3 separate regions of the Homo sapiens genome follow, and all the other regions are linked to region 3. Evidence: fine-mapped expression QTL. A gene starts in region 3. Each other region holds a variant in brackets. All regions are shown on one strand. Distances are from middle to middle.

Evidence for each region. PIP is the estimated chance that this variant, and not a neighbour inherited with it, causes the effect.
Region 1: its variant is fine-mapped to the expression of GNG4 in testis (GTEx, PIP 0.97).
Region 2: its variant is fine-mapped to the expression of GNG4 in tibial nerve (GTEx, PIP above 0.99).

What each region holds. Positions count from the first base shown.
Region 1 is chr1:235,552,042-235,556,262 of GRCh38, forward strand. It overlaps GNG4 (G protein subunit gamma 4), which reads right to left. Exons shown (of 4, transcript NM_001098722.2): 4 at 1-196. The coding sequence ends at 68. Among named protein-coding and RNA genes, the nearest start is that of B3GALNT2, 50 kb to the left of the region's middle. The variant G/T (reference allele first, on the strand shown) is at 1,999.
Region 2 is chr1:235,622,330-235,626,558 of GRCh38, forward strand. All of the region lies in intron 1 of GNG4 (G protein subunit gamma 4), which reads right to left. Among named protein-coding and RNA genes, the nearest start is that of GNG4, 25 kb to the right of the region's middle. RefSeq lists an enhancer at 338-838. The variant T/A (reference allele first, on the strand shown) is at 2,443.
Region 3 is chr1:235,647,602-235,651,830 of GRCh38, forward strand. GNG4 (G protein subunit gamma 4) reads right to left here and starts at 2,183. Exons shown (of 4, transcript NM_001098722.2): 1 at 2,061-2,183. RefSeq lists enhancers at 388-682, 3,148-3,999 and a silencer at 2,048-2,157.

The sequences.
Region 1 (4,221 bases), 96 kb before region 3:
GAGCATGCATGGTCTCTACAGGGGACTTTGAAGGTCAGAAAAGGAGGCGTTTTCATCACACACGGAGTTAGAGAATGGTACAAAAGAACTTCTTCTCGCGAAAGGGGTTTTCTGATGCAGGCACTGGAATGATGAGAGGATCTTCCCGCACGTGAGCTTCACAGTAGGCCAGGAGGTCCGCAGCTGCCTGGGAGACCTGTGAGGGCACAGAGCACAGGTGCTCAGTTAAAGGCCCCTTTGCAGAGTGAGTCCAGGGAAGAGGTGTCCACGTACAGAGGGGACAAGCCCTAGGGTAGGCTGTATTGTGTGCACGGCCTACAACATGGTCATGCCCAGGCTGGAGGGAGGGTTTGTGCAGATCTAGGAGACTGGTTCGAAGCGGGCCTCCAAGAAGGGGAGGCTGCCCTCGCATGGCAGGCCAGCATGGAGACAGGACTGAGGGCTGGCAGGAGGCCCAGACAGCCTTGATATATTCTCGAGTAGGTGAGGAGTGGAGGTTCCAGGACAGTAGTCTCACAATGACTTTGCTAAACCGTTTCTGGAAGACTAAAGCAGAAGGCAGCCCCTGGCCAAGCCAGTGTGATCATATTTATTATCATTATTAGTTGTTTTATTGCAATCCACTCTTGTGACCAACACAGAGAGACACTTCATCCTCCTCAACAGAACTTGTATTTAGCTATATTTTATAAGCACACGTTTTATTTTTATTCATTTTTCATTTTTATTTCTTTTTTTGAGGCAGAGTCTCGCTCTGTTGCCCAGGCTAGAGTGTGGTGGCGTGATCTCCGCTCACTGCAACCTCCATCTCCTGGGTTCAAGTGATGCTCCTGCCTCAGTCTCCCAAGTAGCTGAGATTACAGGCACTCACCATGCCCAGCTAATTTTTGTATTTTTAGTAGAGATGGGGTTTCACTATGTTGGCCAGGCTGGTCTCAAACTCCTGACCTCAGGTGATCTGCCCACCTCGGCTTCCCAAAGTGCTGGGATTACAGGCATGAGCCACCGTGCCCAGCCAGCACACATGTTTTAACTTGGAGTGGCCACTTCCCTGCGGAGAGAGGTGCTCCTGACCAGAAAGTTCTTTCCATTCCATTTCTTTCCAGGCTTATCTGAAGCCTGCTGGCGCATGGCAGTTGTGCATCAAACTGTCCCCAAGCTCAAGGCCAGAGGAAGAGCAGGTTGGGAGAGGGCGGGGTGCGGACAAGCATTTGCTAAGAGGGAGAGGCAGTTACCAGCTTATTTTGTTCATGGTCTGTGTCATGTGCTTGGCAGATAAATGGCCTGTGCATTAACTCATCCTGCCAATTAGGCTGTTCTGCCTGCGAGTATTTATTAGCGGATTACAGGCAGGGGTAAATACATAGCAGTCAAATGAAATCCTTTTAGTACATTCAATGTCTAAATCTTCCCCAGAATGATAAAAATGTTCCACAGATGAAGAAAAAAAATGTTTAGAAGCCTCCAGCTACACAGGCCATACACATTCCCTTCTGGGTTTTAAAAATTGGCTCATCTTTCAGCATTTTACAGAGATTCTTCTGATTTTCAGACCTAACCGCTTTAGCAATGGCTAGAAATAATTCCAGCAGAGATATACAATGAATCAACTAAACACATCACTCAAATAAATCAACTTGAAGTTTAGCAGATGAGTTAGTCTAAATCCTGACAAAACCTACATTTGTTAAGAATGTGGCATGGAGAAATGAGTTCCGGTGAACATCAGGCTTCTAGATCTACCCCCGCCCGTAAGCTAGCTGTGTGACCTTGGGTAAGCAGCTCAACCTTTCTGAGCTTCACTTCCCTCATTTGTAAAATTCAGGAGCGTTGGAGAGCTCTAAGGTCCCAATTTACTCTAAGACGTCTATGATTCTACCTTTAATAGCATGGTCAGTATTTAAGATCCTAAAAACGTGTATGTTGAGTTGAATAGGAGTGTTTGAAGTTTGCAGTGGGTTACAGGACGCCCATATAGGAATTTCCCAGATGGGTGAG[G/T]CTCAGGGGAAAACTGAGCCTGTGGGGGGCCTGTGAAGCCATCACAAGGAGCAGGAGCACAGGCTTAAGGAAATGGACTCTGAGGCCCACAGGGCTGCGATGGACACACAAGAGAATGGAATCACATGGTGAGTGCTGCAACTCAAAGCCGGTGGACTTGGGAGATTGAGCCCTCCCTTGCTGCCACCTTCTAAGGAAAGCCAAGTGCCCTCCCCAACTGCTGGAGTGATGACCTCCTTAGTTTCCACTCCTGGCTTCTCACCATGCCCAGAGATGCAGAAGCTGCTGAGGTCTGGGGTCTCCCTCATGGCCACCATGTTAGGACAGCCACTAAATTCATCCATTGACCCCTCTGGCAACCCCTGGGCAGTGGTCTTCACTGCTGCCTGGGCAGCACACACAAGGGCTGCAGTGTTGGAACAACCACATTCCTCCTCTAGGAGCCACTGTCCTCTTGGGTTTGCTAAGTCTAGGCCCCTGACTCCAGTGAGCTCTTCTGGGAGTTCCGTTTAAGAATGGCTCGGCTGGACGCAGTGGCTCACACCTGTAATCCCAGCACTTTGGGAGGCCAAGGCGGGTGGATCGCCTGAGGTCAGGAGTTCAAGACCAGCCTGGCCAACATGGTGAAACCCCGTCTCTACAAAAAATACAAAAAATTAGCCAGGCGTGGTGGCGGGTGCCTGTAATCCCAGCTACTCAGGAGGCTGAGGCAGGAGAATCGCTTGAACTCGGGAGTTGGAAGTTGCAATGAGCTGAGATTGTGCCACTGCACTCCAGTCTGGGCAACAAGAGTGAAACTCCATCTCAAAAAAAAAAAAAAAAAAAAAGAACGTCTCGTCTGACTATCATGCCCTCTCCAGTTTTCTAGTTTTCACTTTTCCCATCTACTTCATTTTTTTTGGACATGCTCCAGTTTCATCTGAATTCTCTATAATCCTCGTTATGTCATTCAGAAAGGAAGTATTCACTATCTACCCTTTAGCTAATTCAGAGGATGCAAGAGAAAGAATAAGGCAACAGTTTTGCCCTCTAGAAGATCTCACTGTGATCTCAAACATGATGAAGTCACTATAATAATCCATGTGTGCTGAAATGTCACAAAAGAACACTTGCACGCCACTGTGGATCCATGATGAGAGGCCAGGAGACGGGGCATCTGACAACCTGTCCAGTCCCAGACAGTAGAGGACACCTTGGTGAATCTGCCCCCTTTCTTCAGAGGGCAATCACTGGACTTCTGGGCCCAGAAACACAATTTCCTGGCACACTCAGAATAGATCATCTCTTGTGGCTGACCCATATTAAACAAGCTCAGGAGGCAGCTGGATAAAACCATAATACAAATAGAAGCTAACATTTACATTTACTGAGTGCTTCTCAGGTGCCAGCACTATGCTACATGCATCAGATGTATTATGTCATTTAATTCTTCTTATACGTACGACTCTAGCCTGGGCAACATAACAAGACTCTACCATAAAATGAAAAAATTAGCCAGGCATGATAGTGCACACCGGCAGTCCCAGCTACTTGGGAGGCTGAGGCAGGGACATCGCTTGAGTCCGGGAGTTCAAGGCTGCAGTGAGCTGTGATCGCACCACTGCACACCAGCCTGGGTGGCAGAGCAAGACCCTGTCTCTAAAAAAAAAAAAAAAAAGTAGAATTCCTTATTTATAATTGACAAATAAAAATGGAATATATTTATGGTGTACAACATGATGTTTTGATACGTGTATACATTATAGAATGGCTAAATCAAGCTAACTGACATATCTATTACCTCACATACTTTTTTTGTGGTTAAAAACATAAAATTTACTCTTTTAGCAATTTTCTTTTTTCTTTTGAGATGGAGTCTCACTCTGCCATCCAGACTGGAGTGCAGTAGGGCGATCTCAGCTCACTGTAACCTCTGCCTCCTGGTTTCAAACAGTTTTCCTGCCTCAGCCTTCTAGTAGCTGGGGTTACAGGCTCCTGCCACCATGCCTGGCTAATTTTTAAATTTTTGGTAGAGATGGGGTTTCTCCATGTTGGCCGGGCTGGTCTCGAACTCCTGACCTCAGGTGATCTGCCCGCCTCGGCCTCTCAAAGTGCTGGGATTACAGGCATGAGCCTCTGAGTCTGGCAAGCAATTTTCAAGTACACATGATAAGTATTATCTTAAAGCCACTTTACAGATGAGGAAACTGAGGCACAAAGGTTAAGAAGGTCACCCATCTATTA
Region 2 (4,229 bases), 25 kb before region 3:
CTGTTCTCAAAGCTTTTGCTATGTTACTTTGGTTCTGTCCTAAGCATGTGTAGCTAAGGGGTGAGGCTGGAACTTTTGTGGTTCATAAAAAGAGTTAGATGAGGCTGGGCGCGGTAGCTCACACCTGTAATCCCAGCATTTTGGGAGGCTGAGTTGGGCAGATCACTTGAGGCCAGGAGTTTGAGACCAGCTGGGCCAACATGGTGAAACCCCATCTCTACTAAAAATACAAAAATTCGGCCAGGCACGGTGGCTCACCTGAGGTCAGGTGGCTCACCCAGCACTTTGGGAGGCCGAGGCGGGTGGATCACCTGAGGTCAGCAGTTCGATCACCTGAGGTCAGGAGTTCGAGACCAGCCTGGCCAACATGGTGAAACCCCGTCTCTACTAAAAATACAAAAATTAGTCAGGTGTGGTGGTGGACCCCAGCTACTCAGGAGGCTGAGGCAGAAGAATCGCTTGAACCTGCTGGGAGGTGGAGGTTGCAGTGAGCCGAGATTGCACCATTGCACTCTAGCCTGGTGACAGAGTAAGACTCCATCTCAAAAAAAAAAAAAAAAAATAGCCAGGCGTGATGGTGCATGCTTGTAATCCCAGCTACTCGGGAGGCTGAGGCAGGAGAATCGCTTGAACCCGGGAAGCAGAGGTTGCAGTGAGCTGAGATCGCGCCACTGCACTCCACCCTGGGCAACAGAGCGAGCCTCTGTTTCAAGAAAAAAATAAAAAAGAATGAGATGATCCACTTCTCACACTCTCTCCTCTCCAGGGTTTCTGCCACACCCTCCAGTTCAAAAGGGCACCTTTTCCTGTTTCCCTGACCAGAAAGACAGGGTTTATCTTGGAGATTTAGCCTGCATGCAGCCACCACTGTGCAATTCTGAACTGGGGCCCGTTCTTGGGGCAAAGCTGTGAGAGAAAGGAGAAAAAGAAAAAAAAGGATCACAGGGTTCCCTTTCCCCAGTTCCTCTCGCCAGCCATGTGGGGTTTCCATCAGAACATTCGCTACCTGCACGGCCACCGCTGCAGCCCTGCTCTTGGGCCCACTCAGGTCAAAGCCACAAGAATAAGGAGAAAACAAATGTAAAGGACACTCCCATCCACACAGGTGACTTCGTGGCTTCTGCCTGTCCTCCCCAATCCACATGCTCTTATGTGATTCGTGAGTCCTCAGGGAGTTGCTTTTTATATTTTTCCAGCGTTTTTGCTGCAGTCTGCAGGAGAGACGGGCTGTAGCGGGCTTGCTCCATCCTGGGCTCTCCATATGCCACTCCCTCTGCTGAGAACGCTCTTCCTTTCTTGTCTGGTGAGCACCTATTCCACTCCCATACCTTGCATCAGCTGTCCTGACCTCCAGGGAATCTTTCCTGACCTCCAGAGGATCTTTCCTGACCACTTTCACCTTTTAAATTCAGAGCGGGGGGTGCCTCCGCCACAGCAGCCCCCCTCATCATGCTGTCTCCCCAGCAACCAGCAGCTGGGGTAGGAGAAAGACCTCCTCTTTCATGCACATCTCTGTATTCCCAGCTTGCAAAAAGCTGAGGGAAGAATGATTATTTCTATTATCTATCTGATTCTCTACTAAAGAGACAAAATGGACATCTAAAAATCACAATAACACAAAAACTCCACAATGTTTAAATGCTGTGAGCCGAAGACGGAGGGTCCTCCGAGCCTTTGCCTGGCCAGAGTACAGGTGAAAAGCACATGCCTGAAGAGCGTGGCTCTAGCAGTCCCTTCAAAGATCATCTAGTACTTCAGTCTGTGTGGCCAATTCCTTTTTTTTTTTTTTTTGAGACGGAGTCTCGCTGTATCACCCAGGCTGGAGTGCAGTGGCGTGATCTTGGCTCACTGCAACCTCTGCCTCCTGGGTGCAAGCAATTCTCCTGCCTCAGCCCCCCGAGTAGCTGGGATTACAGCCACGCACCACCACGCCCGGCTAATTTTTGTATTTTTTTTTTTTTAGTAGAGATGGGGGTTTCACCATGGTGCCCAGGCTGGTCTCAAACTCCTGACCTCAAGTGACCCACCCGCCTCAACCTCCCAAAGTGTTGAGATTGCAAGTGTGAGCCCCCGTGCCCGGCTGCCAATTCCATTTTGACATGATATTGTTTCAATAGAAAGGCTATTTTTACAAAGTAGAAAGTGACAGTTAGAGGAAAATGATAATTTTGAGTTTTCCATTTCATTTTTTAACTGAAGAAAAGACAAAAGCTGTCATATTCCAGCTCCTAGCATTATTCAAGAAGAATGAATTTTCTATAACCATTCCTCGGGCAAACCATTCATTTTTACATTCCTGAAGAATTAACTTTGTTAAAAAACAGGATGTCTTTGTTCCAGAGTATCAAGGTTTTGCTTAACATTGTGTGCAATTTTGCTTCTCATTTCATTTGCTTCCTATGAGATTTTTTTAGCGCTAAGACAGATCAAAGAAGGTTTCCT[T/A]GTTGCCTTTGGCTCCACTACCATTTCCTCTCCCAGCTCCTCAGCTAACTGGTTATTTGCTTGGCCAGTAGTGCTATTTGCAAACAGGCTCCTGAACACTGGGAGAAGATGGTTGCTGGTAAATTGCAGCTTGTGGGAATGTCTGCAACACACAGCTGACTTTCTGGAACGTGGGGAACCGCTGACCTCAAACGTAGGTTCAAGGAGGAACCACAGCCTGCTGAGGACCCACACTGAGGTGCTGGTGGATGCGGGCAGCTGCCAAGCTGATGAGGAAGGGTTTCCAAGAAGCAGGTCAGGGCCCCAGCCTGGCAAAGGGGCTCTGGGGCTCTGGGGGAGGGAACGAAGATTGATGTCTTTTGCAGGCCGACCCTGTGACCCACACAAAGCCACAAGAATGATATCCCTTTCCCTTGCTTTCTCCTCTTGCCCTGGGACAGTACTTTTCTTCCCCATTTTCCTAGCCTTCTTCTGCAAACTTCCCGGCATTTAAAAAAAATAAACTTTATTTTTTAGAGCAGTTTTAGGTTCATAGCAAAGGTGAGCACAAAGTACAGAGTTCCCACATAACTCCTGTCCCCAAATAGGCGCAGCCTCCCCCATGAACATCCTGCACCAGAGTGGTCCATTTGTGACCATCAATGACCCAACACTGACACATCAATATCACCTAAAGTCCATAGTTTACAATAGGGCTCACTCTTGGCACTGCACATTCTATGGGCTTTGACAGATGTCTAATGACAGGTGCTCACTATTATGGTGTCACACAGAGGAGTTTCCTGCTCCACCTATTCAACCCTCCCCAACGCCACATTCAGAGCAGGAGGTGCCTCCACCACAGCAACCACTGATCTTTATACTGATTCCATAATTCTGCCTTTTCCAGGATGTCATATAGTGGGAATCACAGTATGTAGCCTTTTCAGACTGATTTCTTTCACTCAGCAATACGTATGTAAGTCTCCTCTATGTTGTGTCATGACTTGATAGCTCATTTCTTTTTTAGTACTGAATACTATTCCATTTTCTGGATGTTTCACAGCTTATTTATCCATTCACCTACTGAAGAACATCTTGGTTGCTTCCGAGTTTGGGCAATTATGAATAAAGCTGCTATAAACATCTGTGTGCAGGTTTTCGTGTGAACATAAGTTTTCAACCCAGGAAAATTCCAAGGAGTGCAATTGCTATAGCATATGGGAAGAGGAGGTGTCGTTTTGTAAGGAACTGCCAAACTGTCTTCCAAAGTGGCTGTTGCATTTTGCATTCCCAACAGCAATGAACAAGAGTGTCTGCTTCTGCAGATCCTGGCCCGCTTTGTGTATTCTCAGGGTTGTGGATTTTGGCCATTCTAAATGGTGTGTAGTGGTTTCTCCTCCTTTTCATTTGCATTTCCCTAATGACATATGATGTTGAGCTTCTCTTCAAATGCCATCTTTGTATCTTTGGTAAGATGCCTTTTCAAAACTTTTGCTCATCTTTAATAGGATTTTGTTTTGTTTTGTTTTCTATTGAGTTTTAAGAGTTCTTTTGTATTCTGAGTGACAGCATTTATCAGATGTCTTGCAAATGTCTTCTCCCAATCTGTGACTTGTCTGCTCATTCTCTTGACTTTCCCAAGCTTTTCAAAGCTCATAGGGAGGGCCTGGGACTAGAGGGAGGCTAGTGAGGGACCTAGAACACAGAATTTAAAGAGGTGATCTATCTCAGGGCCTTGCAAGTGCGATGAGACACGGCCGAGTGCCTCTTTAAATTCTCACCTAATTCTGGTCCTGCTGATGTGG
Region 3 (4,229 bases):
TCCTGAGACAGCTGTGGCTCTTGCTTCCCCAGGGGTCAGGGTCCATGTTCCCACCTCATGTTGTTTATTTATTTTGAGGCCAGAGTGCAGTGGCACCATCTCAGCTCACTGCAACCTCTGCCTCCCAGGTTCAAGTGATTCTCGTGCCTCAGCCTCCCAAGTAGCTGGGATTACAGGCGTGCACCACCACGCCCGCCTAATTTTTTGCATTTTTAGTAGATACGGGGTTTCACCACGTTGGCCAGGCCGGTATCGGACTCCTGACCTCAAGTGATCTGCCTGCCTCGGCCTCTGAAAGTGCTGGGATTACAGGCGATGTTCCCACCTGATGTTCTATCATTTCAAAGAATGCACTGAATATTGGGGGACTTCAGGGACTGTCACTTTTGCTTTAAAAACTGTAAAGTGAATCTAGGAAAAGCTTTTTTTTTTTCTGGTTTCTCCACCATCAGTTTGCATGAGAAACGCCAATCATAGGACTGCTGGGAATGGCCCCTTAGCTGTGCTGTTTCTGAGCCAGGCCTACATCCTCCACTGGCTTCCTTGGGCGAATTTTAAGGCCTATGAGCACTGGAGTTGTGCATGGAGGTGGGGGCCAACAGGAAGTCCATTGTCCTAAATAGTCATTTCAGCCTAACTAACCCCATGGTGAGGCTGCTCATTAACAGGCAAGGCATCACTGTAAACCTTGCATTTGCATTTACACCTACTATTTATTAAGTGCCACAGCCATCTCTTATCATGACCGGTCACTGAGCAAACCCTACATTTCAAAAACAATCCAGTTTATAGGTCCTCTGTCTGTTTCTCCGGGCTGGAAAAGGCTTTCCATTTATCAACTTAGTTGTCCCCCCAGTCGCCTCTTGCAGGGAACAGGGCCAGATCAGATGGCGGCTGGTTCCCCTCCCCCGCCTCATACAAAAATCAGGAAAAGGAGTTGCGGGAGGAATCGAGAAGCCGGCCGCAGAGCCCAGGTCCCCCATGGCTACTGTGAGGCATTCGCCGCTGCAAATTTCCTGTCCACTGTGGGAAGCGGCACACCTCACTCATGAGCAGACGACAGGACTGGCACGTTTTAATGGAGCACACGGGCGCAGCCTAGGCGGCCTTTTGCTCCGGCTGAGAGGCACGGGCCCGGTGCCAGCATTTGACAGTCCTGGGAGGCGACGGGTAGAGGAGAGACGCGGCAGCCGCGGGGCCGGGGAGACGGTGGGAGGCCCGGCGTCCATCATCCACTTTATTACTTGATCAAACTTTAACATTTTCGGGTTTCCTAACACCTTAGCCCCAAATACTCGAAATGAAGCAAATCTTAAATTAAGGAGTCTTTCCCCACCACGCTCTGTCCTCCTCCCCACTTCACCCTCCCGCCGTTTCGCGTTATTTCCAAGGCAATTTAAAAAATCAAGCCAAACAAAGCTCCCCGGTTGCTGCCGGGCGCGCGCGGCGAACGAAGCACATTTCAGTTCAGCACCAGCCTCGGGGACAGACGCCATCAAGGAGGTGAGGAAAACCACCCTCAGCTGCGGTGGCTCCAGCGTCACCCCGAGTGCTCCCGAGGCGGCGTCTGGGCTGCTGGGGAGCCAGGAGGGCTTCCTCAGGCACTCGCCAGAAACATTTCCCCAAAGAAAACGCCCAACCAGCCACGCCATCTCCTGCCACTGAGGTCCTTTTCCACGGGGGACGTCCCCGCTGGGAAAACAGCAAACGCTCTGTGACCTACAAATGGAAGAGGGGACCCCCGAGCCCCCGCCTGCCTCATGCCGGAGGGACCGGGCGCCCCCAGCCCCGGAAGCCCCTGGACGCGCTCCGAGGGGGCTGTCCACACCCGCGCGCGGGCTTCCCCGGGGCCCGGCGGGAGGTCCCGGGAGAGGAGGCCGAGGGAACCACAGGTCTTTGTGTCGCGTGCAGCAGCAGCTGGCGGCGTGAGGACCACACCGGCGCCAGAGCCGTCTCCCTAGGTCCGGAGACTTTCACCCCGAGTTTCCCTTCCGCGTCTGGCTGCACCGGGCTGGGCTCTCCCCGCGGACACCCGGGGCTCCGGCCGGGCGCCCACTTACCCGGAGCGGGATCACGCGCGGGCTTCGTCTGCAGCGCGGTGCTCGCGGGGGGCGGCCAGGCCGAGCGGCATCGCTCCGCATCGGGGCGCGGGCCGGGCTCGGGTGCAAACGCGCGCCTCGTGCCCCTCCCGCCGCCCGCGGGGTCTCCGCGTCCCGTCACCGGCCCCGCCCCGCGCCGCGCCTCCCGCCCTGCAGGGCCCGACCACGCGGGCCTGGGGGCGCAGGCGGACCCTCCCCCGGCCCTGGACGCTGGGGGCTTCTGCTCGGCCCCCTGTGCCGTGGGGGCCCAGACTGGGGAAGGGAGAGCCGGCGACTCTGCGACCCTCGCCCCCGTTCCACGCTGGCCGCGCCCACTCCGCCGCGGGGTCTCGCCCGGGAAATCCCGCCCGCTGCCACCGACGTCACTGCTGCGTCACCGGGGCTCCCGCGCTCCCCGCCCCCGCCCCCGCCCCAGCCCGGGCCCGCGCCCCCCGCCCGCTACTCGGGCCCACGCCCCCTGTCCCAGCAAAGGGCCGCGCCCCCGCCCCGCCCCCCCGGAGCCCGCGTGGCCGGGGGACCACTGGAGGGGTCTGTGGGGCGGGGCCGGGGGGTAAATCACTGGGGGGGGGTCTGGGGGGCGCGGCGGGGGGGAGATCACTGGAGGGATCTGCGGGGCGGGGCCGGGGGGGAAATCACCGGAGGGGTCTGGGGCGGGGCCGGGGTTGCTGGAGGGGTCTGGGGACGGGGCCGCGGTCAGCGCGGGCTCCCCGAAGCCTCAGGTACCGCCCTCGCTCGGGGTGAGCTCCAGCGCCTGGGCCGTTGGGGCGCGGGCCGCTTCCCACCCTGCACCAAGGGACGCCTCGGAAGCCTCCGGCCAAGGCGGGGAACGGCGGAGAAACGCGGAATACCTGTGCGAATTCGCGCGGCCGCGTCGCCACTAACCCGGCGAAGGCTGACCCGACGTTGCTGAGTGACGGGGACCAGGGGCCGGCGAGGCCCCCACTCCGGGGGGAGCGAGGCCGGGAGGGCGGAGGGCGCGTGCTGGAGGCGGGGGTGCCCTTCGCGCCCCGGTTCTAGGAGCGACTGCTCTCCAGGCCTCGTCCCTGTGGCACCGCAGGCTTTTGCGCTGGAGATTTTAAAACACTTTAGTGATTACAGCCCTCTTCCTTTCAGGGAAAAAACAGTTTAAGCGCCGTCCATTTTCCGACTTGGTAAAATAATACGAAACCTTGGGAATAGAGAAGCAACGAAAACATTTCACGCAGTGTTGGCAAGATTTGTAGAAAAGGAGGCCAATATTAATTCCCTTTGTGAAAACAACAACATAACATCATGATGAACGATTAGGAAATATTTCGGGAAGATCTGGGCGCCTCATCCTCATCCGCCGTCCACAAGCGGTCCCTGCCACAAAGGACACAGGGCGCGCTTGTTGCTCAGATCCCTGGCCCCACTGGTTGGACCTTGCCCTACACACACGTGTACCTTCTCGGAGCCCAAGGGCCAGATTGGATGCGAACGCGGAGATCACAAAGGCCCGTAAACACGGGGCCAGCAAACACATCGGTTTTTACAAAGCTCTCAAGTGCCCATTTAAGGCACAAAATTAAACCTTGGCAAACCGACGAAGCCAGTCCATGTCCACCTCACAGACTTTTAAAAGTGAGAAAGATATATGAGTACTGCATTGAAAATTCAAGCAAATCCAAACCCTAGCTCATTGTTTTCACCCCAAAATCTTATTTCTCCTGCATTTCCTGCCCACCTCCCGCCCCCGACTGGTTGGCTAAGGCAGAATCCTAGGTTTCCTTTTATCCCAAATCCCAATCTCAATTAATCAATCACAAGGGAAATCAGTGTCTACACTTTCAAGCGCATCATTTCCTTATTTTATCTTTCTAATTGTTACACTATCATTCAAGATAGGATCATGTCAGTTTTAAACAGGAGGAAGAGGTCAGTCAACAAGTGGTTCCAGAGTGGATCCCAAGACCAGTAGAATCAGCGTGTCACCTGGGAATCTTTTAGAGATGCAGACTCCCAGGCCCCACCCAGACCTAAGGAATCAGAAACTCTGGGGGTGGGGCCCAGCAACCTGTGATTCCCCAAACCCTCCAGGTAATTCTGATTCCGTTCATCTCTGGACATCACCCAGGATAGCTGCAGTAGTGTAAAGTCTGGCACCAGGAC